Regions from separate parts of the Homo sapiens genome. Here region 1 is linked to region 2. Evidence: fine-mapped expression QTL. A gene starts in region 2. The other region holds a variant in brackets. All regions are shown on one strand. Distances are between the middles of the regions.

Region 1 (16,056 bases), 56 kb after region 2:
AAAGATGATGAGTCATTTAGTTTTATAAAAGGTGTTGGAAGAGAAAGCATTCAGCTGGTGATTACATTTATTGGCATAAAAATCTAGCCTGACTCAACCCATCACTAAATTCTGGGTGAATCATTAAGTAAAAAACAAACACAGGAAACAGAAACACAGCATTTTCCTACTAGTATGTCTAAAAAATATTCTTGGAAATATTGCAGATAACTGATGTGAAAAAATTACTAGGCAATTATATTGTATAAAAAATAAAGTAGAGAAGGATAAAGTCAAAGACAGTTTGTAGGAAGAATTAGTAAAGGAAAAACTGAAAGAAGGAGGAAGGAAGAAAAGGAAGAAAAAGAGAAAATGATACCTCAGACTCACATTTTGATATATTACAGAAAGACTATGCGGTCATACACATTGTCTTTTCTCAGTGTGATTTGTCATTCCTGGTGTATGTGCATTACTCAGAATTTCAGGTCTGAGTCAATAGAGTATATCTTGAAAAACAATAGGTGTTTTTGAATGAAACAAATTAAATTTGTTTTTGAATGAAAAAGAGATTTTTCATGGCTCTAGCATTTAAACACTTCTCCAGTCATATCTATTTTCTTTTTTTACCATCTCTCCTTAAAGGATATTATCATATTTTTTCAAAACCCACGACAGTTTTGACCGTGATGTAGACATATACCATGACAATATTAAGAAAATATGTTGACAGAGAACTTGGACTTTCTTTTTTAGGGGTGCAGTTTTCTTTAAAACATCCATGTGATTAGAGTCCATTGTATTTTAATACAAGCAAATTGTGATAAACATAGTTTTTTTTCAAGTATCTATAGCTTTAAAATTTAAGATATTTCTAAAGCTTCAGACTAATGGTCAACTACACAGAAAACATATTTTCTGGTAGTTCTTACATTGTGGGAAATCACTGGGATTTCAACTAGAAAACTTAAATTCCAATTCAAAGCTTGTGACTAAAACCAGCTGTGAGCTTTTGACATATGGTTTGGCTTCTGTGAACAAGAAGCTAATGAAATATTGTTGAAATTGAATGATTAAACCCAATGTAAAAATGAGTGCCCAATGTAATCATTAATAGTAACATTTTCTTAAATTACACAGGCCATTTTAAAAATCAATATAATAAAAATTCATACATAGAACCACAACCAACATATGATTATATGTGGCATAAATATAAATTCTAAAAGGCAAATCTTAGTATAATGAGAAGAAATTCTAAAATCCCCACCCTGATGGCTTAGAACGGTGACTGTCATTTCTCTAGCGTTGGTTCAACAGTATTTATTTTCAAAAGTCACATAACTTTGCTGGAATGTTAACTTAGGTCCTGCAAATTTCTTAAATATATTTTAATATAAATGATTATTATATATTGCTTTGTAAAATTTCACATAGGGTTATTGCAATCTTAGGACATATCATCATGTAACTTGACATTTAAGAACTCCATGAATAAGTAGTTTGTCTTCCTCTACTAACTGTTCTGATTCTTAATTACTTGAAGGATGAGCAAACGATTGCTTATTATATGAGGCATAACTATTATTAAAGATCATTATTAGAACCATAGATATTAGAAATAGAAAGGACTTAAAAGTTAATAAAGTTTTTCTCATTTTGCAATGAAAAAAATGAGAACCTCAGGGGTTAATAGATAGACGCATAGTTGTACAACTAATGAAATGGCAGAGCCAGAAGTATATCTAACTTTTAAAAAAAAATTTTTACTTTAAGTCCCGAGATACACGTGCACAATGTGCAGGTTTGTTACATAGACATACGTGTGCCATGGTGGTTTGCTGCCAGTATTCACTATTGACCCATCCTCTGAGTTCCTGCCCCTGGCTCTCCACCCCCCAACATGCCCTGATGTGTGTTGTTCCCCTCCCTGTGTCCTTGTGTTCTCATTGTTTAACTTCCACTTATGAGTGAGAACATGTGGTGCTTGGTTTTCTGTTCCTGTGTTGGTTTGCTGAGGATGATGGCTTCCAGCTTCATCCATGACCCTGCAAAGGGCATGATCTCATTCCTTTGTATAGCTGCATAGTATTCCATGATGTATATGTACCATATATTTTTATCCAGTCTATCATAGATGGACATTTGGGTTAATTAAATGTCTTAGCTATTGTGAATAGTGCTGCAATAAACATATGTGTGCATATGTCTTTATAATAGAATGATTTATGATCCTTTGGGTGTATACCCAGTAATGGGATTGCTGGGACAAATGGTGTTTCTGGTTCTAGATCCTTCAGGAATCACCATACTGTCTTCCACAGTGGTTGAACTAATTTACATTCCCACCAACAGTGGAAAAGCATTTCTATTTCTCTACAGCCTCAACAGCATCTATAGTTTCTTGACGTTTTAATAATTGCCGTTCTAACTGGCATGAGGTAGTTTCTCATTGTGGTTTTGGTTTGCATTTTTCTAATGATCAGTGATGTTGAGCTTTTTTTCATATGTTTTTTGGCCGCATAAATGTCTTCTTTTGAGAAGTGTCTGTTTAAATCCTTTACCCAATTGCGATGGGGTTGTTTGTTTTTTTCTTGCAAATTTGTTCAAGTTCTTTGTAAATTCTGGATATAAGACCTGTGACAGATGGGTAGATTGCAAACATTTTCTCCTATTCTGTAAGTTGCCTGTTCACTCTGATGCTAGTTTCTTTTGCTGTGCGGAAGCTCTTTAGTTTCATTAGATCCCATATGTCAATTTTGGCTTTCATTGCAATTGCTTTTGACATTTTTGTCATGAAGTCTTTGCCCATGCCTATGTCCTGAATGGTATTGCTTACGTTTTCTTCTTGGGTTTTAATGGTTTTGGGTTTTACATTTAAGTCTTTAATCCATCTTGAGTTAACTTTTGTATAAGGTGTAAGGAAGGGGTCCAGTTTCTGTTTTCTGCATATTGCTAGCCAGTTGTCCCAGCACCATTTATTGAAGAGGAGATCCTTTTCCCGTTGCTTGTTTTTGTCAGGTTTGTTGAAGATCAGATGGTTGTAGATGTGTGGTGTTATTTCTGAGGCCTCTGTTCTGTTTGTCTGTATGCCTGTTTGGCACCAGCACCATGCTGTTTTGATTACTGTAGCCTTGTAGTATAGTTTGAAATCAGGTAGCATGATGCCCCCAGCTTTGTTCTTTTTGCTTAGGATTGTCTTGGCTATATGGGGTCCTTTTTGATTCCATATAAAATTTAAAGTAGTTTTTTTCTAATTCTATGAAGAATGTGAATGGTAGTTTGATGGGAATAGCATTGAATCTGTAAATTACTTTGGGCAGTATGGCCATTTTCACAGTATTGATTCTTCCTATGCATGAGGATGGAATGTTTTTCCATTTGTTTGTGTTCTCTCTTATTTCCTTGAGCAGTGGTTTGTAGTTCTCCTTGAAGAGATCCTTCACATCCCTTGTTAGCTGTATTCCTAGGTATTTTATTCTCTTTGTAGCAACTGTGAATGGAAGTTCACTTATGATTTGGTTCTCTTTAGTCTGTTCTTGGTGTATAGGAATGCTTGTGATTTTTGCACATTGACTTTCTATCTTGAGGTTTTGCTAAAGTTGCTTATCAGCTTAAGGAGTTTTGGGGCTGAAAATCATGGGGTTTTCTAAATATAGAATCATGTCATCTGCAAATCGAGGCAATTTGACTTCCTCTCTTCCAATTTGAATACACTTTATTTCTTACTCATGCCTGATTGCCCTGGCCAGAACTTCCAATACTATGTTGAATAGGAGTGATGAGAGAGGGCATCTTTGTCTTACGCCAGTTTCAAAGGGAATGCTTCCAGCTTTTTCCCATTTAATATGATATTGGCTGTGGGTTTGTCATAAATGGCTCTTATTATTTTGAGCTACATTTCATCAATACCTAGTTTATTGAGAGTTTTTAATTTGAAGCAATGTTGAATTTTATCACAGGTCTTTTCTGCATCTATTGAGATGATCATGTGGTTTTTGTCTTTGGTTCTGTTTATGTGATGGATTATATTGCTTTGCGTATGTTGAACCAGCCTTGCACGCCAGGGATGAAGCTGACTTGATTGTGGTGGATAAGCTTTTTGATGTGCTGCTGTATTTGGTTTGCCAGTATTTTACTGAGGATTTTAGGATCGATATTCATCAGAGATATTGGCCTGAAATGTTCTGTTTTTGTTCTGTGTCTGACAGGTTTTGGTATCAGAAAAATGCTGGCTTCATAAAATGAGTTAAGGAGGAGTCCCTCATTTTCAATTGTTTGAAATAGTTTCAGAAGGAATGGTACCAGCTCCTCTTTGTACCTCAGGTAGAATTCAGCTGTGAAGCTGTCTGGTCCTGGGCTTTTTTTGGTTGATAGGCTATTAATTAATGTCTCAATTTCAGAACTTGTTATTGGTCTATTCAGGGATTCGACTTCTTCCTGGTTTAGTCTTGGGAAGGTGTATTTGTCCAGGAATTTATCCATTTCTTCTAGATTTTCTAGTTGACTTGCATAGAAGTAATTTTAATATTCTCTGATGGAAGTTTGCATTTCTGTGGGGTCAATGGTGACATCCCCTTCATCAATTTTTATTGTGTCTATTTGAATCTTCTCTCTTTTCTTCTTTATTAGACTTGCTAGTGGTGTATTTATTTTATTTTATTTTATTTATTTATTTTGAGATGGAGGCTTGCTCTGTCGCCCAGGCTGGAGTGCAGTGGCGCGATCTTGGCTCACTGCAAGCTCCACCTCCCGGGTTCACGCCATTCTCCTGCCTCAGCCTCTCAAGTAGCTGGGACTACAGGCACCCACCACCACATCCAGCTAATTTTTTGTATTTTTAGTAGAGACGGGGTTTCACTGTGTTAGCCAGGATATTCTCGATCTCCTGACCTTGTGATCTGCCCGCCTTGGCTTTCCAAAGTGCTGGGATTACCGGCGTGAGCCACCGCCCCTGGCCTATTTTGTTAATTTTTTCAAAAAAACAGCTCCTGGATTCATTGATTTTTTTGAAGGTTTTTTTGGGTCTCTAAAGCCTTCAAGTTTGTTCTGATCTTAATTTTTGCTTTCTGCTAGCTTTTGGATTAGTTTGCTCTTGCTTCTCTAGCTCTTTTAATTGTGATGTTAGGTTGTCAATTCGAGGTATTTCTAGCTTTCTTATGTGGGCAATTAGTGCTATACATTTCCCTCTTAACACTGCTTTAGCTGTGTCCCAGATATTCTGGTACACTGTCTTTTTGTTCTCATTGGTTTCAAAGAACGTCTTGATTTCTGCCTTAATTTCATTATTTTTTCAGGAGTCATTCAGGAGCAGATGTTCAATTTTCATGTAATTGTGTGGTTTTGAGTAAGTTTCTTAATCTTGGGTTCTGATTTGATTGCACTGTGTTCTGAGAGTGTTTGTTATAATTTCAGTTATTTTGCATTTGCTGAGAAGTATTTTACTTCCAATTATGTGGTCAATTTTAGAGTAAGTGCCATGTGGTGCTTAGAAGAATGTATATTCTATTGATTTTTGGTGGAGAGTTCTGTAGATGTCTATTAGGTCCACCTGATCCAGAGCTGAGTTCAAGTCCTGGATATCCTTGTTAATTTTCTGTTTCACTGATCTGTCTAATATTGACAATGGGGTGTTAAAGTTTCCCACTATTATTGTCTGGGAGTCTAAGTCTCTTTGTAGGTGTCTAAGAACTTGTGTTATGAATCTGGGTGCTCCTATATTGGATGCATATATATTTAGGATAGTTAGCTCTTCTTGTTGAATTGATCCCTATACTGTTATGTAATGCCTTTCTTTGTCTTTTGTGGTTCAAAGTCTGTTTTTTTCAAAGACTAGCTTTGCAACCCCTGCTTTTTTTTTTTTTTTTTTTTTTTTTTTTTTTTTTTTTTTTTTGCTTTCCATTTGCTTGGTAAATTTTCCTCCATCCCTTTATTTTGAGTCAATGTGTGTCTTTGCATGTGAGATGGGTCTCCTGAATAGAGCACACCGATGGATTTTTTGACTTTTTATCCAATTTGCCAGTCTGTGTCTTTTCATTGGGACATTTAGCCCATTTACATTTAAGATTAATACTGTTATGTGTGAATCTGATCCTGTCATCATGATGCCATCTCGTTATTTTGTGCATAGTTGACGCAGTTTCTTCATAGTGTCATTGGTCTTTATATTTTGGTGTGTTTTTGCAGTGGCTGGTACCGGTTTTTCCTTTCCATATTTAGTGCTTCCTTTAGGAGCTCTTGCAAGGCAGGCCTGGTGGTGATGAAATCCCTCAGCATTTGCTTCTCTGGAAAGGATTTTATTTCTCCTTTGCTTATGAAGCTTAGTTTGGCTGGATATGAAATTCTGAGTTGAAAATTCTTTTCTTTAAGAATATTGAATATTGGCCCCCTAATCTCTTCTGGCTTGTAGGGTTTCTGCTGAGAAGTCTGCTGTTACTCTGATGGGCTTCCCTTTGTAGGTGACCTGGCTTTTCTCTCTGGCTGCCCTTAGCATTTTTTCCTTCACTTCAACCTTGGAGAATTTGATGAATATGTGTCTTGGGGTTGATCTTCTTGTGGAGCATCTTAGTGATGTTCTCTGTATTTCTTCAATTTGCATGTTCCCCTGTCTTGCTAGGTTGGGGAAGTTCTCCTGGATAGCATTCTGAAGTGTGCTTTCCAGCTTGTTTCTGTTCTCCTCGTCTCCTTCAGGTACTCCAATCAATCTTAGGTTCGGTCTTTTTACATAGATCCATATTTCTTGAAGGCTTTGTTCATTCCTTTTCATTATGTTTTCTTTAATATTGTCTTCGGATCTTATTTCAGCAAGGTAGTCTGCATACACTTATGGCCTTTCTTTCGCTTGGTTGATTCAGCTACAGATACTTGTGTAAGCTTCACAGAGTTCTCGTGCTGTGTTTTTCAGCTGCATCAGGTCATTTATGTTCCTCTCTAAACTGGTTATTCCAGTTAGCAGCTCTAACCTTTTATCAAAGTTCTTAGCTTCTTTGCATTGGGTTAGAACATGCTCCTTTAGCTCAGCAGAGTTTTTTATTACCTATCTTCTGAAGCCTACTTCTGTCAATTCGTCCATCTCATCCTCTGTCCAGTTCTGTGCCCTTGCTGGAGGGTCATTGCTATCATTTGGAGGAGAAGAGGCATTCTGGCCTTTTGGGTTTTCAGCATGTTTTTTGTTGATTCTTTCTCATCTTCATGACTTTGTCTAGTTTTGATCTTTGAGGCTGCTGACCCTTGGATGGGGCTTTTGTGGGGACTTTTTCTTTTTGTTGTTGTTGATGCTGTTGTTGCTTTCTGTATGTTTGTTTATCTTTCAATGGTTAGGTCCCTTTTCTGTAGAGCTGCTGTGGTTTGCTGGGTTTTCTCTTCAGGCCCTATTCATCTGATTTGCTCCCACGCCTGTAGATGTCACTCAAGAAGGTGCCTCCCTTGACTGGGGGGTGGGAGCTCTTCTGCCCTCTGTGACTCTCAGGTGGGCCATGGCACCACATTGCTCTTCCTTCCTTTCCATGGATCATACCAGCCGCCTAGTCAGTTCTGATGAGAAAACCTGGATAGCTTGGTTGTTGGGGCAAGATTCACATGCTATTATGGTTCTTTTTGATGGAAGCCTCTGATCGCCGCTCCTTCTTGTCAGCCATCTTGCCCCACCTACCTTTTCTAACTACTAAGG[A/G]TTCTTTTTACTTCTCCTAGAACTTTTTAACTACTCTAAGCTCTTCTCTAGATATTATAGGTAGCTTCCTTGGAAACATGATTATATTTATTATTCATAATTCTTTCATTGATTGGCTTAACTTTCATTTAAATCATTCATTTGAAACAATTGAAATCTAATGAAATCATCCTAAATTAAAATGGTAATACCACATCAATAAATTTGTCATTTATTGTTCATCTTGGAATACTCTTAGCCTCTTCACATAAAACGTGTTAAAATTAAAATTGTAAGAGTTATTATCTATTTTTCATTTTTATTTATGATTATTAATAAGAGGAATAGATTATCTTATGACTTAGCATAATGTTGGCTTTATACTCATGTGAAACACTTAGTTTATTACTACTCCTACTACCTCATATTTCTAGTCCTAATGTTGTCATAACGGTAAAAACTCTATCTGGTTCATCCTCAAATATCATTACCATCTCTGAAACACTCCAGATAACATTTGCACCATATAAAGAGAACAATACAATTTCATTTTAAAGTAAAATATATTATGCATTCCTGCTAAAATGTTTAAATCATGTAAAATTCATGGAATGTTAAATGTTTACTAGCTGACCAAACAAACATTGCAAATGGAAAACTCATTAATATATTTCTAAGTATAAGCAGAAAAAAATGTCATTTCCATACATTCTAAAACTTTTATTCTCAATGGAAATATTTTCTCATTCTCAAGAGAAAATTATTTTTGTAGTACAATTTTAAAGGGAGTTCAATTATTTAACCTTTGTGCTGCAATTGTTAGTGAATTGAGATTTTTTTTTATGGACACAGTAACATGTGAGGAATATTCTAAATTTATCATTAAAAATAGTATTTTGTATATATCAATAGAACTACTGTTATGAAAAAAAAAAACACTTAAAAAAAGTCACACACTGAAATCTTACCATTTTTCCTGGTGTATTTAGTAAAAGAGTGCCCCCTTGTGATTTCTGAATACTTATACAACAGTGAGGTCTACTAATCCTGGGGAAAAATTTTTAATTAAGAAAAAAAGGCTCCTCTCATCCTTAAAATACAACCAACACTTTATTTTTGCACATGAAACTATTTTAAGTTTAAATTTATTTTACTGGAAGTAGAAAAAATTTATTTCATGGAGATTTATCAGAAAGCAGTTTTAAGAAAACCACTAAACATTCTAGGACGCCAGCTCACAGAATGCATATACTGCTGCTGTTTTCCATTTTTATGCCCACGTAGGTGGCTCTCTAGAGACAGAACACTGTTTCTAGAGAATAAAGCTGCTGAGCTTACATTGATTGGAATTTTCCTGACAGTGCAGCATAATTCTGACATGTTTTGTGCTTATTCTTCATTATGAACCTAGGACACAATACATAGGGCCATATGTTCCTCTGAGTCCTCAATGGAACTCCCAGGGATACCAGCAGGCAGTTGTGTAGATCCAAGAAACAGCAAAGCTCATATTGAGACTGGGAGTGTCATGACTTTGGGAGCTTTGGCTCATGCATATCTGAAACACTGGAGAACATTCGATATACCATTAACTGAATGTGGTACCAATGAGAAATTATGAAATTAAGTTAATGGAAGACTGGGGATTTAATATAAAATTACTAGGCTAATTTTACCACTGTTTACACTCAGTCAATAATTTATTAGCAATGTAGCTAATTAAGGTTGCAGAGTATCATACTTCTCTGGAAGGACAAAAAATATTTATATGTAATAGAATAGCTTAGTTTGAAATAACTTTTGACTCTCCATTTCTAACCATGAAAAAAAAATCTCTCAATTTAGTTAGCCAAAAAATAATATTGAAGGACAAAATAATGGTTTGGTAGAATAAAAGGGTGATTGATAGATCGGGGAGGCAAAAAAGAATATTAGCTTTTCCAGTTAAAGCCAATTTGTCAAAAGTAGACCAACTTTTTTAGGCTACTTGTAATAAAAGTTGAAAATATAAACAACTATATGAATGTTAGATATTTTTCAGATTATTCAAATTTCACAGTCATCAAAAAATAGAACTTGTAGATGAAAGTACAAGAAAAAGAAATCCGTTTCCTGTGAACATTTCCCTAGACCTGAGTTTCTCAACAGAGGTGGAGCAGTTTTACTCCCTGGGACATTTGGCATTCTCTGAAGACATTTTTGATTGTCACAATAAGGTGGACGTGTTCCTGGCATCTACTGAGTAGAGGCCATAAATGTTGCTAACCATCCTAGAATGCACAGAATAGTTCCCAATAACAAAGAATTTTCTGGTCCAAATAGGTAGACTTAGAATTTTAGATTTTAATAACCTATAAGGCCTTACCTTGCTAGATTTTGTATGCTCCTTTGCATAATTCTTCATTTGAAATCAGGCTGACAGTGGAAGTTTGTGATAGGAAGAACTTGGCTTACAAATATTACCATTCCTTTTTTACTTAAAAACATTTCTACCAATGTGTAAAATATCCTACAACAGATATTTTTCTTAAAAAACTGTGTAAAGGAAAATTATTAATGAATATGTAGAATCCAAGGTTTATCACTCTCTCAGTACTCCATCCCAGTCTCCCACCCTGACCTTCAGATATTCGGGATGGGGTCCAGAAATCTACATTTAAATAATATACCCAGGTGATTATCCCACAGGTGTTTGTAGACTACATTTTGAAAAATGCTACGCAGATTCCCCTGAAGATTCTCATCAGTAAAATATTCCTTTATCTTTACACAAAATTATTTTACAAATTCCAGTGCTCAATATGGGGCATATTTAAACTTGTTTTCTTGTTTCTCTCCCTGGCAGAGAAAAGTCTACAAACCAGCTTTACCTTAAGTAGAGAAACATGGAGGGAGAGAAGGCAGGGAGATAAAAATAGATTTAAAAACTAGGTATCTGATTACATGTAAGGAAATAGAATACTTTGTTTTTGTTGTGTATTTTTAATGATCAAAGTTTCTGAGAGTTTGGAACAGAATGCAAGACAACATTGGAAATCATAGACCAAGGGGTGACTTTGAGTACCTTCTAAGTGTTAGAGAAAATTTTAATATATTTTTAAATTAGCCATTAATTATTCCTATTTTTAGTTTTCTAGCATAAAACAAAATAAGACAAACCCACCTAGTCCCTATACTCAATCATTAAAAATGAAATTGTAGAATTTACTTGCAAATCTCTAATGAATAAGCCACATTTTTGTTATTTCACAGGGCATGCTATCAAAATGACCAGTAACATATCTATGAAATACTAATGTCATTCATTCAATCTCAAAGCATGCAATTTAGACATCATAAATACAACCACGATAATTTAAAAACAACACTAACAGAGCTGTGTACAACTTTGAGGGGAAAGTGACTACCTAAATGATGCAAACAATTTACCTTGAGTGTTTTCTCAATTGAATCAAGCTTTACAGTTAACCAAATAAGAATCCATTTAGAGATTTGCATTAATCAGCATGAGAAATCTTGAAACAATGCCATTATAAAGGAATTTAGCCTTCAGAGCTTACTATATAATTTAAGATTCCATCTGACAAATGTATTAAACTGAACCAAAATGCAAATCCCTAGAATTCTAATCAACTTGGAGGAAAATTACTACTAAGTCTACCCATTTTGCTAACAGAATTATATATATATTTTAAAAGTCTCTATATTATGTATTCTTAGAGAGATCAGTCATCATTAAATAAAAAATGAATTCTTTGTAGACAGAAATTTGGACAATCTAGCTTTAACATTCTAGAACATATAGTTATCAAACCATTAATCAATTATTATACACTGGCTAAGAATACATTTTTCTATGTATAAGTGAAACTTAAAATTGATAACATGATCTTAAATACTATTGATTTTATATACGCTTCCCCAAATTATAGTCTACTTACTTAACAGCTGTCTGTTAGCCATGCCTAAATACTAAAGTTTAATTGGTTTGTATAAATTTATTATAAGGAATAAGGGGAAAATGTGACAGAGGATTGAGCTTTAAAAAATGAATAATAGCTTTTAGTCCTTTGCATTTCACTTTCTGGCTTGCATTTAATCAATATGTATATTGTTGAATAATTTTATATTGTTTAATATTTGAAAAGTTTTATATAAATATGATTCAGAAAAGAAGTGTAATGATTAATTTTGTGTTAACTTGGCTGGGCCACGGTGCCTAGATATGTGGCCCAGATATGTGGCCAAACATTATTCTTGGTGTTTCAGTGGGCATGTTTTTGGATGAGATTAACATTGAAATCAGTAGACTTTGAATAAAGCAGACTGTGAATAAAGCAGATTGCCCACTGCAGTGTGGATGAGCCTCATCCTGTCAGTTGAAGGCCGGAAGAGGACAAAGCACTAACTTCTCCCACCCCATTCCCCACACCGAGCAAGAGGGAATTCGGCCAGCGGATGTCTTTAGGATTCCAACTGCAACATTGGCCCTTCCCTGTGTCTCCACCCTGCAGGCCCAACCTGTAAATTTTGGATGTCCCATTTACCATAATTACGTGGGCTGATTTCTTAAAATCATCTCTTTCTCTATATATGCACATCCAACTGGTTTCGTTTCTTTGAAGAAGTTTGACTAATACAAAGAGATGTGAATTTATAAAAAAATTATGCCATCTAAAAATAATAGAGTTTTCACATTTTTGTTTTGTCTTTTTGCTTTAAAAATACTGAAATAAAACACATATAGAAGGAAAGTAGGCAAATATAAATACATGTGAAACCCATTGAATTATCTCAAAGAGAATATCTGTGTAACCACTACCTAACACAAGAATTTAAATTTTTTAATGTATAAGAAGAATCCTTCCTATCTTTACCCATCAACTCTTCCCTTACTCTCCCTCAAAAAATTTCTGGTTTCTAACACTAGAGTAACACTAGAGTTTAGTTTTGCTTCTAAAACTTTATATAAATGCAAATATACATATATTTATACTTTTATGTCTGTCTTTATTCATCCAGCCATATGTTGTTGATGCAGGATTTTTGCTCCTTAGTTCAGCTAAATCCGGTTCTTGTCTCACAAGCTGGAAAAATTAGCCACGCGGACACATTGAAGGGTGAGAAGGACAGAATTTAATAAGCAAATGGAAGGCTCTCAGCAAAGAGGGGTCCTGCAAACAGGTTTGCACCTCACAATTGAATACCAGGGCTCCCACACAGGAGCTGAAGAGGCCAGGCTCCTCCTTCCTAGCATAAGCCATGAATTCTTGGTGGGCCCACCCCATGCTTCCAGTGTGCATGCGGGCCCTTCGTTTGAGCCACTCCACATTGATTTATTTCCCTTATTGTGCATGGGTTAAGGGATGAAATTTTTCACCGTGGGCATGTTTAGGTCAGCCCCCTATAAACAATGATCTGGGTGGGTCAGGGGTTCTCTGAGACCCTTCCCTATCTGCCTAGGCATTTAGCTGCCTCCTGCCTCTATCATTGTGACAGTTATCCATGTTGGTGTGTTTAAGGTAATATTATTCATTTCATTGCTCTAGTATTAAATTGCATAAATAAATAAAAATTTATTTGTTCACCATTGGATTATTGATAGGCATTTAGATTTTTATTAGGTATTGGCTATTACAAATTATATGTCTATGTTTGTGTGTGTGTATGTGTGTACTCAATATAAATGTGTCTGTGTCTGTTTATGTGTATATGTGTATGTGTAAATTTACCTTGTTTTCTCAATTGAATCAAGCTTAACAGGTCAACAATACATACACACACATACATAGACACAGACACATTTATATTGAGTACAAACATACAAGTAGTTTTTCTGGTTAGTAAGATATATGCATATTCAACATTATTAGGTAATTCCAGTAGTTCTGTAGAAATTTAAACTTTTTATCACCTGTATATATAAAAGATCAGTTTTTCCATTTCCTCAGCTACATTTGTTACATCATTCATTTAGACACTGGTGAAAGTATGTGTTGTATCTTATTTTTAATTTGCATTACTTTTAATTTCCATTTCACTGATGTCAGATCAAATAGACCACCTTTTTACATATGTATTGACTATTTGCATATCTTATGATACGCCTGCTTGAGTTCTTGGCCATACCTGATTTTGTGCTTTTTTTCCCTAGTAGAAATTCTTTTCAGTCTTTGTAACTTTTATTTCATTTGCTTGTTTAATTCACTGGCTAGAACCAGTACAACATTTAAAAGAAAAAAGGATATTGACATCTTCCACCGAATCTCTGATGTTTCTTTCAATATTTCACTATTTATCATCATTTGCTGTAAATATTTTGTAGATAGTTGTTTTTTCTTTTTTGTTTTGTTTTTTTCAGATGGAGTCTTGCTCTGTCACCCAGGCTGGAGTGCAATGGCATAATCTGGGCTCACAGCAGCCTCCACCTCCCTGTTCAAGTGATTCTCCTGCCTCAGCCTCCCTAGTAGCTGGGATTATCTCAAAGAGATCCCATCATGCCCAGCTAATTTTTGTATTTTTAGTAGAGATGGGATTTCACCATGTTGACCAGGCTGGTCTCAAACTCCTGACCTCAAGTGATCCACCCACCTTGGCCTCCCAAAGTGCTGGGATTACAGGGTTGAGCCACCATGCCCAGCCTATAGATACTCTTTAACAGATTAAGGAAGTTTGTTTCACTTATATCTACTTTATATGGGTATTTATCATTAATTATTATTCTAATTATTTTTTGAGATGGAGTTTCACTCTTGTTGCCCAGGCTAGAGTGCAATGGCACGATCTCGGCTCACTGCAACCTGTGCCTCCTGGGTTCAAGTGATTCTCCTGCCTCAGCCTCCCGAGTAGCTGGGTTTACAGGCATGCAACACCATGCCTGGCTAATTTTTTCAATTTTTAGTATACATGGGGTTTCCCCATGTTGGTCAGGCTGGTCTCAAACTCAGATCACAGGTGATCCGCCCGCCTCGGCCTCCCAAAATGCTGTGATTACAGGCATGAGCCACTGTGCCCGGCCTATCATTAATTAATTTTTATTTATTACTGCAGCTACAGAGATGATATGATTTTTCTGTTTTATTTAGTGGAAATACATTAATTGATTTTTTTAAAGGTTAACTCTGCATTCCTGAGTTAAATACAACTTAATTATAAAATATTATTCATTTTCATCTCAATGGATTTGGTTTGCAAATATTATTTCAGATTTTTGCTTTTATGTTCATGAGAATAACCAGTTTTCTCTTCTCTTAATGGCCTCCTATTTTTAAAATGAGGTTTAATGATTTGCAAGAGAAAAGGCTGAGGAAGTCTCTCTTTTGCTAGTTCCTGGAAAAGTTATATTTCCTCCTTAGTTATTAGGTAGAATTCATTGCTGAATCCATTATGGCATGGAATTTTTCTTTGTGTTAAGGTATTTAATTTTTGTTTTTAATTACAGATACAATTTCCTTAATAGGTATAGGCTATTCAGATTCTCTATTTTATCTTATCTCCAAAGCTTAAATTTTTCTCAGGTTTTGACTATTTCATCTAAATCATCAAATTCATTAGCATAAAGCTACTTATATCTTTTTAATCTGTAAGATGTATATAAATGTCACTTTTTTGTTAGCTGTATACATTATTATTATTATTATTTATGCTTCCTTTTTTTCTTGGTCACTATGTTGGTTAGTCTTTTCAAAGAATGAACATCTATCTTTGTTAAAACACACAAACATATTTACACACACATATATTTCAATGGAAATTTGCTATCACTTTGATTATTTCGTTATCTGATTATTTCATTTTCATCTTTGTATAATTTTGTATTGGACAGTGCTGTTTTAGACAATGCAAGACCTTAACCACTTGAAGTCCACTTATGCCATCCTGACTTATACGGGTCTTTATTTATGTGTTTTAACTTCTCTATATTTTAAACCTGAAACAAGTAAAAGCATATATACTCAGTAATTTGATATAAAGTTGCCTTTAAACATTCATTCTGGCAGCCACTCACCTGTTGCAGTGATTTACTACACTGCAGAAATTGTAATATTCCATTTGGAGACTCAACAGAATCTGGATGCAACCAATATTTGTGATATCATATATGAAAATAATCTTTGGGACACAGGTAAAATAATATACTCTGGTTCTTAGAATCATTTATAGATATAAAGTATTATAAAATGTGTAATATATTATATAGATATAATAAATAGTATATAAAATGTTAGGTGTAATGTTGCACACCTATAATCCTAGCTACTCAGGAGGCTGATGTGGGAGAATTGTTTGATCCCAGGAATTCAAGACCAGCCTGGGCAACATAGTGAGACCCCATCTCATTAAGTAATAATAATTTTAAATATGTGTATATATAAAATATTGCTTTAGATTTTTGTAATAAAGATTGTATATAAAATGATGCTTTTTAA
Region 2 (16,056 bases):
CATGTAACCAAGTTCAGGCCTGTGGGATACAAGTAGAAGTAATGTGTGATGACTTTCAGGTGAATTCTAGGACAAGGTGATTGTCCTAGATTTTCTCTTAAACGCCTCCTGTTAGATAGGAAATGGCCATTAATAGAGAAGCTTGCTTGAGGGAGTAACCCTGAAAGCCCAGGCCTGGACACCCGTTTCTTGATGGTCTCATGCTTGCAAAAGAGAATTCTATCGTTACTCGGGTACTCTGATTCAGGGTCTCCTTTCTGCAGGAACTTAACCTCTCTCTAACCAACGCATTGGCAGTTGTAAGTGAGGTGGAAGAGAAAGAAATAAATCTGAACTGTCAGTAAAGTATCTGGATTTACCTATATAACCATTAATTGAAGTTCAGTAGTTGAAGAAGAAAGGGAAGATGCTAGTGCTTGATATTACCTATTAGGCAGCAAAAATATTTAAAGATGTTAGAGCAACACAATTATGTTGTTGAAGAGGAACTGTGGAAAAAAGAATTGAACTAATTGGCCAAGGGAGCACCATGATGCATGTCATTGTCATCTGCTGTTGACCATTCTAAAACTGGACACGACAGCTTAGACACGGCATTTCTATTTTGGCAAGTTTTGGAACTTATAGGACTAAAGTGGTTCAATACTTATAACTTTATATTTTATAAAAATTGAATTTTTATTTAAATTACAAAACTGGGCTTGAGGTGGCCAGAAATTGAACTGGCCAATAAAAGACAACACAGCTCTAAAAAACCTTTAGGTAAGGATTTTTCAATTGGCAATGTATTTTGAATATAATGTCACCTCATTTAGTAAGTATTTTCTAGTGATAACTCTGAGACAATTATTGTGGTAATGCTAGGTGAGTTGTAGGATCATGGAGAGGAAGGGAGACTACAATCTGTAGCTGTAGGGAGTTCACAGTCTAATGGGGTGTCCAAATCTGTAAACTAGAAGAGGTAGAAAGAATAGAAAAGATGAAATGATTTTCATAAATGAAAAAAGACATATAAATACTCCAGGAGCTTACAGGACTTGGATAGTATTTACAGAAGTCAAAGATCAGCCTTTAAAAATAAGTACATAAAATGAAATAAAATTATGACCCAGATCATGAAAACTAAAGTTGTGTGAGAACATAAAATGTCACTCTGAGTCACAATCATAAGATCTAAAAGCATCCAACCCCAAAGTCTTACTGTCAGAGTAGCAACATAAATGCTCTATAGTGGTACACGATGTTCCTTTTGTATATCTAGATAAAAAGTTTAAATATATAATCCCAAGCAAGCTGACTAGCTGTAAGAAACAGAAAAGCACACTGTGTCCACACATGTAACAGTAAATGAAATCATCTCAAGTTATAAGATGCAGAAAACCTAACCAGGAAAAGAAAAGAAATAAATAAAGAAACCTAACATGTCTTAACATTTTGGGGGTGGCTAGATGGATGTTGGCTTTCTACTCAACATGTTATGTGTAATAACTATACACATATCTGGTGCATACAAAAAACCTATAGCACAATATATAATTGCCTCTGTTTTCAGATTAATCTGTTGTCAACTTGACATACACACATAACACATATATGTAGATATACATTTATGCAAGAATCTACGCACATAAATACATATAAACATATACAACATACATAGAGTAATTTGTTTCTCTTACTTACACTTTTACACTTAGTTACACTTTTCTAGTCATTGACTGGAAGTTATGAAAGCTAGAGGGTTAAAAGTATTGCTTGCTTCTCTTTAATTTCTGTTAGGATAAACACATAGAAAATCGAGTAAAGTTTTGTGATCAATTCATACCTCCTGACAGAGTCTGATAATGTGATACCAGCTCTAGCTAAGATTCCCTTCAGAAACAAGCAGATCAGTGGACATTCTCTGACCTGCCTTCCTTCGTCATGTGATAACCTGATGACAAAACCAAACTTAAATCCTGACTGGCAAGCAGGATAGTGGTTGTAGTAGCAGGTTTAAAAAATAGGAGTGTGGAGTTTGTGCTGTGATCACGGCTTAACTAGGATCCTGATGACAAAAACAAGAGTCAGGATGCTGCCAGAGCCTAGCCCTTTGCTGCTGTGGTTACTCACTGGTCCCAGAATCATCAAAGATTGCCTATTGCTTCTCTTAAGAGGTCAGTTGCCTCTCTCCATTAAATCTCCCCATGATTTAAACAATATGAATAATAGTCCAATAAAAATATTACTGCATGCTACAGTCTTCACCAGCTCTGATCTGCAAATATATACACTATATTCACAAGCTTTTAAGAACTAAACCCAGTGCCTGTAATCACCAAAAAAGCAAAAGAAAGAGAGAAAAACACTCATGATAATGCACTCAATTAACTGTGAAGAATTCCCAAGAAATGCCTATGTTCTCAACTACAGTGAAATATAGGTAATTATTACCACAGTTACAAATGTTGTTTCATAGTGAGAAACACTGAAAATGTACATTTTCATAAGAATTGGATATCCATTATTGAGAAAGCATTCTTAAACAGAGAGAACAGTAGTTCACTTTATTAAATATATCCAAATTACAAATAAATCTTTAATTTTATTTTTGATACATATTGTTGAAAAGTATAATAGCACAACTTTGTTGCCAGAAAGGAGGATCCCTCAATGCTAAGAGTATGCCTGTAACTCAAGAAATATAATCAAGGCACATCATAAACCTAAACAAAGTACTGAGAGAGCATTCCTTAAAGATTCTCATTGTTTGAATTTTAATGGCCTGTAGAGCCATAGAATACTTTATTTGGAGTAGACATAGAAACAAATTGTTGTATTTACTTTCTAACAACAGTAGAAGTTGATAGACCCTCGAGAATCTTTACCCCTCTGTAGCCCACTAAGTTCCAGGAAATATCCCACACCATCATCCATTATCTCTTAAATAATCTGTGCACTTAAGAACCTCACCTTAGATGAAAAAGGCAAATAAAAAGAAAAAACAAATTAAGAATGTTCTGCTTACTATTCAACACCCACAAATCAGATATTTTTTAAAAGTCAACTTATAATTTGAGTGCCTCTGAGACATGTCAGCCTGTATTTTACATTTTCTCAATATTCTACATGTTCTTTAGCTTACATTAAGGTTAAATCTGTAAAGTTAAACTGTAGAACTTTATTATTACGTTAAATATACCCAAAGGATATTAAACATCACTTAAGGAATAAATGTAAACTGAAGTTGATTATGGTTTCTATAACACTAGTGGTCACCATTCCTTAAAACAAAAAGTTCAGAATGAGCCCCAGGTATTTTTATTGAAAAACAAATTTAATTTAATCTAGAACTATTTGAATTTCCATTAAAGGGTACAATCCTGTTTTTATTATATGAGTTACTTAAAAATTAGCATGGCCATCATTCCTCTTTTTTCTAAGTTTTTATTATATTGATTCCAAAATACAATATTTGAGGGCTTCTCATATTTTATCTTTTTTTGTCATTCCTAATTAATTTATGTATTTCAGTGAAATCAATAATAGATAATTTTGATAATGTTATTATACCATGCATTACTAAGTAATTCATTGGTTCCAAATTCCATACTCATTTATTACATGATAAAGGGTATGGTTTAATTAAACTATAAAATATAAATATTTGAAATATGCAATACATAAGCCACTCGAGCTAATAATTCAGTTTCCTCATAACGATGCTGATTTCCAATTCTCCTAATATATTCACAAGAATGGGATGAATGAATCCTTTACTCCTGCTCTGGGAGAAAGTAATGGTACCCCACAATTTTCCCACTGAGGAATCTTGTGTACTTAATTTTATCACTAGTCAACAGAGCCCCCCACCAAAAAAAAAAAAAAAAAAAACCAGCATGTAACCAGTATATCTACTGAATATATACCACTGTTGAGGGAGTTCTTATTTTATTTTATTTCAAAATCACATAATTATAACCTAAGTAAAGCATGCTGGTTCTATCTACTGTACTTATGTTTAAATGTGTTGACTTTTCTGTATCTTTAGATTAAGTGAAACTTGTATGCTTTCCTAAGACATAGATATTAAAATCCTTATCAGAATTTTTATACTAATAACCAAATAAATTAATAATTTTCAAAACAGTGAAAGCTCTTTATGTCTATAACATTAAGCATCGTACACTCCAAGCGTCCTTCAAAAGGACAACAAAGGTAACAAACTTTATTCAACAGACATTGCTAGCATAGAGCAGTCAAAAATACTTGAGGTTTCTCCTGTGTTAACACCTACTCATTGCAAGCTTGTTTCTCCTGTGTTAATACCTATTCACTGTAAGCTTGTCTTTGCTTTCATTGCTTCTTTAGCATTTATATTGAGGAAATCAAGAAAATGAGCCTCAACGGCAGTAGTTTTTATGCTCACCTACTCTCTCGTAACTCTATCCATGCTCTTTGTTCCTAAAGCTTTATTGTAAATCAATTATATTTACATACGTATATTACAAATATATAAAGAGTAACATTTATTTTTAAAATTATTCAATTAAAATATAATGCTAAATTGTATTTTTAAATATTATTTAAGATACTTTTAAAATGTATTTCAAAAGAAAGAACAGTTCAAACTTTCATTAAGGAGTCACTTGTTAAACAGTGCTGATTATGTAAAACAGTCACTTCGGAAGAAAAAATAATCATAAGGATTAATCCAAGCAATAATTATGCTGATGCTTTCCAAGGCTTTTGTATAAATAAAATTAATTATATTTTATGGGAAAAAAGCACAAAAGTACTTCAGTTAAATTGTTTCTCAAATAAGAGGTTCAGAATTCCATGTTTCTTTGCCCTCATATAAAGTGAGTACATAAATCATTATTTGAGATATGAATGCTCATGCAGAACATTTAAAGGTAGATTCATGCAGTATAGTATTATTTCAAGTAATGCCTTATCGCCATGTGCTTCCAGCTGAAAACCAACTGAAAAATAACATCCTGAGAGCTACAGAAAAGATTATTAAGCTAATGATTCCCCAAAAGGGAAAGAATATACATAAATAGCAGTGGGGTGGATGGTCTAGATAAGGATTATATATTATGCATTCTGAATTATTATTTGAGAAACCACACTGTCAGCATACCTTTCATCATGTTAATAATAAGCAACAGGTGGTTCAAGGGTAAAAAATGATGGCATTTATCCGCTCCATTCCCTCCAGAAGTCATCTTTGCAAAAACATAACTGTCTTACTAAAATGGTAATACTAAAACCTGATGAAAGTTTTTCAAATAAATCAATATTTATTTTTAGGTGTTGCATATACTTCAAAACAGATATTTGCATAAAATGTATCAGTAAATCCTTTTTAAAATTTATGTACAATTTTGATGGACTTTTTCCTTGAGATCCTAGAATAACTGAGAATGATATAGCAATAAAATCTCCATCTCTATAGAAATTGACTCCATAAATTCTAGCATATTTAGCTCTATAGTAGGCAACTCAGCTTGTCTCAATAGTTTAAGTCAAACACATTCACAAACTGTCCAAGTCCCTCAATAATTTAATAAAGTAATTTGAATAAAATAAGAGAATACTAAGTTATTCAAAATTTAAAATACATTTTAGAGAAGAAAGCTTTTATCTCTGCTCTCATTGAAGATAGTAATACTCTTACAATTCTCCCAGCGAGGAATCTTGTGTAGTTGATTTTATTAAAAAAAAAAAAAACCCAAAACAAATAGAAAACAGCATGCAACCAGTATTACCTACTAAATATATCCCATTGTTGGGAGGTCTTTCAAAAATTCATTTCTAGAAGATTTTAAAGCAGCCATTAAATAATGAAATGTCATAATGTCAAACACTGTTCAAATACTGATGAAGTGTTCAATTTTCGTTTTTGTTTTTGATTTTGCCAAATGAGGGCATGATAAACAAATTTTCTTTAGGTTTAGGAATATCTCACTCGCTATCCTTTTTGCTTGTACTCAATATTGGTGTAAACTTAAAACAAATATGCAACGGGTATGCTTTTATAAGGGCATTTATTTAGCAATAAAATGATGCTTAAGCTTTGTTCATGAAGTATGTAGGCAAGGTTCTCCATTAAATATTCTCAATCAAATGGCTAAACCTAATTTTAAAGTAAAAATTTGTGTTTCTTCAGGAATCCCTCTGCTAGATTTGGCTTGTCAGCTACTTCATGGAGAGGCTGAGAGAATGGGTTAGAGGAGGCAGGATGAAAGCTAGCCTAGGCTCCCTTTTATTTTCCTAAATGGTGACTGAGTCGGAGCTGATGAAAGAAGTTAACTCATCTCCACGTAGTGCACTGCAGATGGACTCCACGAGAAATTCTCTCAAATGTCACGGTAAGGATTGGCAATGTGTCTAGGAACCACTCTCGCTCCAGTTCAGGCCTTCCGCGTTTTAAAGGGTGGGCTAGGGGCGGTATTCAGCCAACAGGGCGGCCTCCTCACTGGGACAACCAAATTCAAGGCTTCCAGTTGTATCGTGCTCTGTACGTGAGCAGCTCTTACTGGGCTCCATTCAGATCAGGTGAGGAAAATAAAAATGACTGGCAAGCCATGGCCACTAGCTTCAAGTGTGGAAACCTGGCTCCCTCTTAATAACCCTTTTGAAAACTCCCCAGGGGAGTCTATGGTTTAACTCTTTTATCGCTGTCACCTGCAATCCTCCCGCCCTCGCAACCTCTTCCCGCAGAGTTCAAGGCAGTGATTCATTTTGGAATAAAATATAATCAAATGCATTGCAAAGATGTTCTAGATTAAAGTCATGTCGAAGCACAAATCTGATCGACAATTTTATGTAAGCGGGAGCGTTCAACGAGTCCTTACTGGTGCCGCCAAACATCCTCCCACCCTTGGAGAGCGGGCATTTATAAATCTTACATCTTCCTACCTCCTCCCTCAAATTCCTTAATGGACCATTAGTGACAGGATCGATCCTAGTTACTTTAGTAGCGATACATCGCAAAGGCACATCTGCTGTGTTTACCAGTGCCAGAAACACCATTCAAAAGTTGAGAGGTTAGAGCCAGCACTTTGTAACCTTTGTGGGCCGGGAGGGGGCACAGGGGAGAGCAGGGTGGGGGAGGAAGAGTGTGAACCTGGTGAGACCTGAACTCCTGTGCATCCAAGAAACAAGCCCTTGAACCAGCTGGGAGGGGGCAGCGGAACTGTGAACTTCTCCAGCAGCCCTGCGCCGCCGCGTTTCCCTAAACCCCTCTCCTCAGAAAACGGAGCCCACTCCCCACCCACATCCGGCGGCCGCGGCCCCCGCCTCGGAGCAGCGCGCGCGTGTGCCCGGGGATGTGGGTGCGCGGAACTTACGTCTCGGAATTTGTTCCACTGTCCGACTTCCTTGTCATACTGAGAGATTGTGGTGAGCCATTGTTTATCATCCAGAAAATTACCGCCGTCCGACCGCCCCCCGGCTGCAGCCACCGCCGCGGCAGCTGCGAGAGACTGACTGCACCAAGCGGCTGCACACACACACAGTACGGCTGACACCTTGAGCATCTGGGAGAGGAGACACAACGGGGGGTGGGGGGGCATGTCAGTGTCAAATAAGGGGTACGAAGCCAGGAGCGACCCTGGAAAACATGCATTAGCAACGACGAGGGTAGAGGGAGGAGGAGACAAGCAGAGGCAAGCGTGTCCCCTCCCCGCAGGCTTTACCCCCAAAAGCCGGGCACTCACACACACGCAGACCCAGAGGAGGAGAGGTGGGTATAAGGAAGCAAGCCCCAGCCGCAGCAGCCCGAGCGGGCACAAAACCGCTTCCTGGCACATCACCTTGTTGTGAGCCAGCACTGTGCTCGCAGCTCCTGCTGGAAATGCAGCCCTGCTCTGCCAACTCGCTGCTTTCTGGAGCTGCTGCACGCGCCGCCGTCTCGAGCCGTCCACTCAGCTCCCTGCGCCCGGCGCGCTCCCCCCATCTCCACCCTCCCTTCGCGCGCGGATCTCCAGCTTACTCCCCTCCGTTCCCCCTCCCTCCCCGACCTCCGTTTTTTTCCTCTTCCACCTCCTCCTATCCCACCTTCCTCTCGCTGGATCCCAGCTACAGTTGGCTCCGGATAGGACGCTTGGCTGGAGCCAGAGGACGAGGTAGCTCCTAGCCTAGGAATCCTTATCTGCTTTGTAACCTCTCCCCTCCAGAAGAGGTTCTCATGTTCGCGAGACAGCCTGCTCATTCTCTGCTCCTGGATTTAACACAAAGTGTACTATCTCTCGCAGTTGCCTCTGCTCCACAATTTCCAGGGTTGTCAGGCAGACGTGAGAAACAAGATCTGAGGAAAACTTTATGCATTAATAAATAAGAATACCTGGACTTCCTACCCTGTAAAGCTCCTGAACTCAGCTCCTCCCTAAAGAAAGGCCATCTATCCACAAGGTCTTGGGAGATCTGTTTAATTTCAGAAAATTTAAAGTTTGCTGTGAGCTTCTGGATTACTACCGACAGCAAACTTTCATGTTAAAGGTTGCAGTTTCTTTTTTTCTTTTCCTTTGTGTGTGTGTGTGTGTGTGTGTGTGTGTGTGTGTGTTTTGTTTTGAGAGACAGAAGCATAACGAGGTAGGGCGTTTGAGAACACCTATATCTCCTACATACTGTAGCTGCATTTTTCCCTTTATAAAAACTCCCTGGCAGCTTTATTTTAGAACGTAGAACCTGAATCGGAAACTTTAAAAGCCTACTGTCTCCCTCCTGCAAAATAAGACAGTTTTGAAGCCCGAACACCAATTTTGTATTCCAAACTTCCATTTATGACAAAATATTTGGCTTTCCATGTCGTTTCTACATATTCTAAATAAACTGGAAGGAAATCAGTAATTAGCCCCTTGTAGAGAAAATCTGATACAGAGAATCTCTCATATTTAGAGAATTTAGGTGAAGTGAATATTACACATAAATCAAGAAATGTCTGCAAGCCAATAGACTGCAATAACATTATGAATCTCTATTTGAATTATTAGAGATTTCAGCCAAAACTACATCTCCCAAAGCTACGACCTTTGAACATTTCTTGTAGCCTCCAAAACTTCAGAAGCTATTCGAATAGCAGCAGTACACATTTTCCATATCAATCTCGTCTAACATTTTGCAATCTATATTAACAAAACGACCAAACTCAATGTTTAATGTTAATTTCCTTTTTTAATGTAATATTTCAAAATAAATGTATAATATGTATGGTAGGAAATATAAGTGTAATATTTATATAGGAAAGAAATTTCTATTACTATTTTTAACTCAGAAAAAGATGTTTTTCTCAATTCCCCCCATTTCTACAGTGATGAATGCAATTAGTGGAGAAAAACACGGAACATACTACTGCAATTCATGGGAGCCCTGATTGACACGAACAAATGTCAGAAAACTTTAAGAATATAGATGTGTGCTAATTCTTCAAAGATATTTATTTTTGCCTGTTCACAGAGGGTTATTACCATGTAGTTTACATATTTAAATTCTTGTTTAGTAAATTTATTAAGACAATAGTAGGTGGTCCATTCTCCACTATCACCTTTTCCTGACCCCTGGTCCTTTGACCTCCCACACTCTCATCCTTAGCTCTCTTCCTCAAAATTTGAAGAAATACTTTATTATTAATAAGAATATCTCATCATGTTTTAAAACCTCATTATTTCTAAATTTAAGTCTAATAGGGAAAGCACAGAAATTGTTTCTTACAAGAAACTGATACTTGGCAGAAGTCAGTAATTCTAAAAGTAAAAATGACCTTCTAACCTTTGTAACTTACCTTTTAAAAAGATAGTTGTTATTAGCTACAAAATACTTGATGAGGAATAATGCTCTAACACTCATCCCCTTCAGCATCTGCTATACATTTTAGCTCAATAACTGGCACCATCTAAGGCCAACATGGTCACCTTTAGATTTATGGAAGCACATATATTTATGTTTATACAGCATTTCCCCCCCAAATACGTCTATTTTGTGGCTGACTCTCCAATGTTCAGAGCATGTTTTCACATCTAGCTTTCACTGGCAGCTTCCCATACTGCAGCTCCACAGGGACGTCTCCAAGTTGTGAAATTTGTTGAAAACAAACAATGACAGTTGAATTCATCTTGGGAGAAATGCCTTTGATAGGGTTTTAAACTACAGATCTGAAGATAGAGTAGGATTTACTAGCAAATTGCAAGTTTAAAATTCTAAAGTCAAAAGAGGCAGAGTGAGCCTGTCTACAGTGTATTTGTGTTGGCCTGGTGTGGTCCAGTCACCTGACTGCTCCTACAGCTCCTTAAGCTTCTCTTTCCAAGCCATTGCCATTGTCTAGGCTAAGTGGGCATGTTGGTAGTGAGAGTCAAAGTCTAGTAGGTGTGATGTTGTGATGTTATTAATCACAGGGAAAGGTTTCTATCAGTTTCTCTATATATCAATATTTTGGTCCTCAAACAGCCTGCTTTCAAGGTTTAAATAATCCTAGGAGAATTCACACTTCAGTTAACACCTTGGTTATCAGTTATCACCTCAGTGGGGATTCATTGAAAGCTTGCTGAGAGCAAAACACAGCAGAGAATAATAAGGGAAGAGTATTAGGTGGGCAGTAAGATATTGGAAGAGAGTAGTCAGGAGCCTTGTATGTCAAGGTAGGTGAGTAGACAAGAAATACTTCACTGACTGCTTCCCAGATAGATGGAGAGCCAGTCTAAAAAACTGGAGAAGCCAAAAACGCAGAAAGTGGGGTGCAGCATATGAGGTGGGTAAAGTGAGACGCTGGTGCCAGGGCTGGGACTTGATTTTATTTTTCAGATCATGCTTTACAAAATTGGAACTCAGAGCAAGACACAGGGCTTCAGATTCCCAGCCCCTTTGTTGTCATTCTGCCACCTGATGCAGAAACATAGTTTAGATACATTATGAAAAGCCAATGCTGAGGCCACTGCTAGATTGAACTTTGCTTTCATATTTGTGTATTTGTCCCTTTAGTTGTTCTTTCTCTCTAAACGTTCAGTAAATCAGTCCACAAATATCTATCATGAAAGATGTAAGGAACATTTTTGATAGGTATTATTTTAATTAAATGTATTTCTTCTGAAGGTTTCCTTACCCTCATTTTCAGACATGACACAGCTCTAGAAATAAAAATGCTAAGCATATATAATGACAGCTGGTCCATTTCTAACCGCCTTTGAGGTTGGATCCATGACCTTCATATAACTCCATTTATTTAAATGCGTGCACAACGTGCACACACACACACACGGTGTGGTCTTTCATAGGTTATTTTTTTCCCCAACAACTATAAAAGCATGCTACTCCATTATCTGTAACCAACATGAGGATATGCAGGAAAGGTCCAATTTATTGCACATCTTCCATGTGCCACACACAGAGCCAGGCAATTTACATGCATGATACCTTTTAGCCTTCACTGCCTAAGATCCTATAGCTACTAAGTGCAAAGGAAAGTTCTGGAGAATGATCAAGCTACTTTGTTTCTAGATATTTTTTCTCTATGTAGAAATATCTCTGAATCATCTTCTGTTTATGCTCTTTAATTCTTCTGCCCCCATATCTTTCCTTCTCCACCTGTTGCATATTTATTTATCTATCTCTATTTCAGTAAGAGCTAGGACTCATCTATAATTAAAGGCAGGAAAAGAGAGAATGGCTACTTCAGGGAGCTTGCTAAGCTAGGCAGAAGCAGCTCCACTTGTATAATGAGCACCTTAGTCCCTGACTCAAATGATGACCCTGTCCACTGGAATCTTTCATCTCAGCAGCATCAAGCCAGTAGCCCAGCAGGCAATCCGACTGGTTGGCTGAGAAGAGAATTAACCAAGACTGCCTCTCTCTCCTTATTGCAAAAGTGTTTGCCAATCAAGCAAGTGTTGTTTGTCTTCCCTGTAGGAATACATGCTTCCCATTACCTTCCCAGCTGGTGGAAGGTAAGGAGACATGTGCATTAAGGGATTTCCAAGTGTCTGACTTCACCCAAAGCTGTAGTTTAATGATATATGAGTTAACCTAAAAACAAAATTTGGCCATTTCTGAAATATTTCATTATAAGGCTAGGGAAACAATACCTGATATATAAAAGTCAACCATCTAGAATGGTGCCTTATACCAAATCCATCTTTGAGTTTAAATTAAGCATATAAAAGAGGAAAAAAAATGAAGGAAAACCCTGGGTATTAAAAACTCAGGAGTAAATTAAAGACGTCATAAAATGATGTCAAGAAGGAACACTCTATGTCTTCATTTTGGAATTGTGTTTACTGAAGTCTTGTAAGTCTTAAAAATCGTGTGTTCTTAATTTAATAGAAAGTAGCACCATTACTAGTATGTGCATTGAGGATATCAAAAACAAACAAAACCAGAATGGAATTTCTAGAATAGGATGTTAACAGACTTTTGTTGTTGTTCGTTTGTTTCTTTGTTTTTAGAGATGAACCCACTGAAGCAAACTTGGAAGATATTAGGTACCTAATTTGATAAACAGGACCTCTTGTGATTTAACTTAATCTAAAACATTCAGTAGATAAACAGACTTTAACAGCTGTAGTAGATATTGGAAACTCATTAGTCAGTTCAATTACTATAATTCTTAAAAAGGTATTTTTCAACATTTAAACCATAGGGTGAAACTGACTGAATTAACTGATTACTAAGGAGATGATAGGAAAATGGCCAATAAGGCAATTAAAGTTTGTGTTTTCTTTAAATTGAGATATATGTTTTGACTTTGTAAAATAAAGACTTTCTGAAAAGTTCAATGAGCATTAATTATAAATATTTAAATTTTCCTGAGGGCTATGAGACACTGACACAAAAAAGGATAAAATAAAATGTTTAAGAATATTTTAAAAATAATTTCACTCTATGCCCATGCACAGAAAGACACACATTCTTATATTAAGACTATTAAATTTAAAAATTTGCATGTGAAAAAGGTTTCTAAAAACACCTCGGTTCTTGAGATTTATACCAATGTGTTTTTAAAATTTTGTTAAACCTGCATATTTATTAATGATCTTAATATAAAAATATATGGGGAGCCAGTTTATTCTTTGACTCAGAATTCTACTTGGCTGAGTAAGGTATATTGTTCTAAAATGGCTATAGAGTTTCTATAGTCAAGATCTACAAAGAACCTTCTATGTTTATCTTTGTAAGTTGTTGTTTGTTTATTTTTAGCTGACCAGTGCAAAACGGGCATTATATATCATTCGCTGTTAAATTACCATGGGTTAGCTATTTTCAGAGGATAAAAACTATCCCAAGTGCTATTGCAAATTCATGCCACTTATTTCTGTCCTCTTGGGTAAATGGAGAGTTCCCTTAATGTGAGGCAGTCATACTAAGAAGGAGTATAAGGTTAAGATTACTGTCCATACATACCATGCCAAGCATCCCGTTTTCTACAAGATAAATGAAAGTAAGGAAAGGAATAGGATGTTAACAGGCTTTAACAGGCATTAGTTTAATTTTAGTTTAAAAATTAAACTAAAATGTGAAACAATTTTTAAATATGTTTATTGATTGTTCTCTAAATGTTATACAATAAGCTTCAAACTAGGGATAAAAAATGTGGCTAAGTTGAAACATGATCTCTCACACTCTTGTGAGCAAAAACACATAATTTAATAATTTAATTAGAGTACAATGAGTGAAGATAGATAATATATGGAGCAGGTTTCTTCCTGAATTAATGAGGGCACTGAAATCTGAATGTATTGTCCTATAGAAATAAAAAGTTGACAGGTAGGCTTGACCTCAGACAAACAGCTCAAACAAAGCTGGTGAGCTTCTCCATCATGTGCCAGTTCAATCAGTGGACTTTATAACATGAAACTTCAACCTTCCAAATTCAGGTGCCTTAAACAATGGCATAGCACTTACAAATCTCACATTATGGAAAAGGGAGAGATTCTTTTCCTAAAATTCATTCACAAGAAAAGAAGAGTTCCTCCACCTTGGAAGCTTTAACAGTTCTGACCTTGTATCATATTGGTTTTCATCTGGTTACATGTCCAACCCTAAAATAATCCCTGGTGGCAAAGATGATGAGAAGTGGACAGTGATAACCCAACACTCAAGCAGTGATAGGAAACAGTCTCTACCAAATCTTTGATTTGTAAGTCTGAGAGGGACTAGTTCTTCAAAGAACAGAAGATTAGAGCACTGTTTCACCAATGGCAGGATCAAAGATGGCAAATGTAACCGATTTCTACCAGAGACTTGCAGGGGATACTGTGGGAGCAAAGAAAGGGGTCATTTAAGAGACAAGATGTGAACCTTGAAAAATAAGCCTTAATAGTCAGAAAAAGAGTGGTAAAAATAACATGTCTTGTGGAGGGAAGAAGGTAGATAAAATCAGAGAGATGTGAAATGACATGATGTTCACAATAATGTTTTTCCTTATCTAAAATGTTAATATATAGACACAAATAGAGTGTATAACACTAAGTGAAAAGTTGAAGCGAAAAAATATCTCTCTTAAAATAATGTTTTTGAAGTGTTTTTCAATCTAATATGCCTCACTTAGCTGCCTGGAAAGCTTTCTAGTGCTCATTGATGCTCAGAGAATTCCCCTGTGAATCAAGCAAATTCTTGTCTTACTTTTTAGAACATAAATACACATGGGATAGCACAGATCAATAATGCAAACTCCTCTTTTGTTTTTTTTAATAAGTAAAATATTTTTGCTCTTACAATTTTTTAAACAGGCAACAATAATTTAAAAGTTTACTCTTCTAATCAAGCTCTGGGTTGCAATCAACAATGACACAGCTCAATTTAGCTCGGGTTGTACTGTGAATTGAGGTATTTTTTCTTGACTTTTTAAAGGAGTTTTTAATAACAAATTTAATTTTTTACTTGGTATAGGAACTATTCAGATTATATATTTCATCTTGGCTTGGTAGTGGGTGGATTTAGAGGAACTGATTCATTTCTCCCAAGTCTTTGAACTTACGAGTGTAAAGTTATTTGTACCATTCTCTTCACATGTTTCTTGTGGCTGCATGATCTGTAGTAATAGCGCCCGTTTTATTACCAATATTGGTGATTTGTTTCTTCATTCCACTTTTGTTGGTCTTGCTAGAGTTTTATGATTTTTTTTAATTTTTTGATAAATTAACTTTTTGTTTTATTGATTTTCTCTGTTAGTACATTGGTGCAAAAGTGACTGCAGTTTTTCCCATTACCTTTAATGACATTTAATGACAAAAACCTCAATTTCTTTTGCATCAACCTAACATATTCCTGGTTTCAATTTTATTAATTAAAAAAATCTTTATTATTTTCTTCCTTCTGCTTGTCTGGGTTATTTTGCTCCCTTTTTCTTAATGTCTTAAGGTAGGAAATTAGGTTATTAATTTTGGAATTTTCTTTTTTCCTAATTATAAGCATTTTGTGGAAGAAATTTCCCTCTCTGCACTGCTTTAGTTTCACCTCACATATTTTTATGTATTTTGTGTTCATTTTTATTCGGTTCAATGTATTTTTGGTTTTCTTTCAGAATTCTTCTTTGACATAGGTTATTTAGAAATGTGTTGTTTAATTTCCAAATGTTTGGAGATTTTTATATTTTTTATTATTAATTTCTAGTTTTTTCCAAATGGTCAGAGAACACATTCTGTATGATTCAATTCTTTTAAATTGGTTGAGATTTATTTTATGGCCAAAGATCTTAGTTATTTTAGACAAGAAAATATACATACTTAACTTCTCATATTGAGGTTTTACCTCTTTGAACAAAACTTAAAAGACCTTACCTTCATTTGTTACCTGGAATATTTTCTCTACATACATGAGGCAACACATTTAAATGGCATTATAATTTTTGCTTCAACCATCAAATATGATTTAACTTATAAGAACAGTATTATTTTATTTACCCTACTTTTTACCCATTTTAATGTTCTTATTTCCTTTAGGAAGTTCTAAGACTATTTTTGGTTATCATTTTCTTTTTCTTTAGAAAACTTCCTTTAGCCATACTTCAAAGGTAGGTTTGCTAGTGATTCTTGTTTTCAGTTTTCTTTCATCTGAGACTGTCTCTATTTCTTCTTCATT

Alleles and levels. Positions count from the first base shown, and alleles are read on the strand shown. Sizes are in standard deviations (SD) of each study's normalised expression.
For the expression in T cells of the gene that starts at base 7,847 in region 2, A is the high allele of the variant in region 1 and G is the other (moderate effect, 0.44 SD a copy in GENCORD).

Evidence for each region. PIP is the estimated chance that this variant, and not a neighbour inherited with it, causes the effect.
Region 1: its variant is fine-mapped to the expression of SPOCK3 in T cells (GENCORD, PIP 0.92).

Annotation. Positions count from the first base shown.
Region 1 is chr4:167,282,253-167,298,308 of GRCh38, forward strand. No RefSeq gene overlaps it. Among named protein-coding and RNA genes, the nearest start is that of SPOCK3, 56 kb to the left of the region's middle. The variant A/G (reference allele first, on the strand shown) is at 7,649.
Region 2 is chr4:167,226,648-167,242,703 of GRCh38, forward strand. It overlaps SPOCK3 (SPARC (osteonectin), cwcv and kazal like domains proteoglycan 3), which reads right to left and starts at 7,847. Exons shown (of 11, transcript NM_001040159.2): 1 at 7,803-7,847; 2 at 7,338-7,526. The coding sequence starts at 7,526.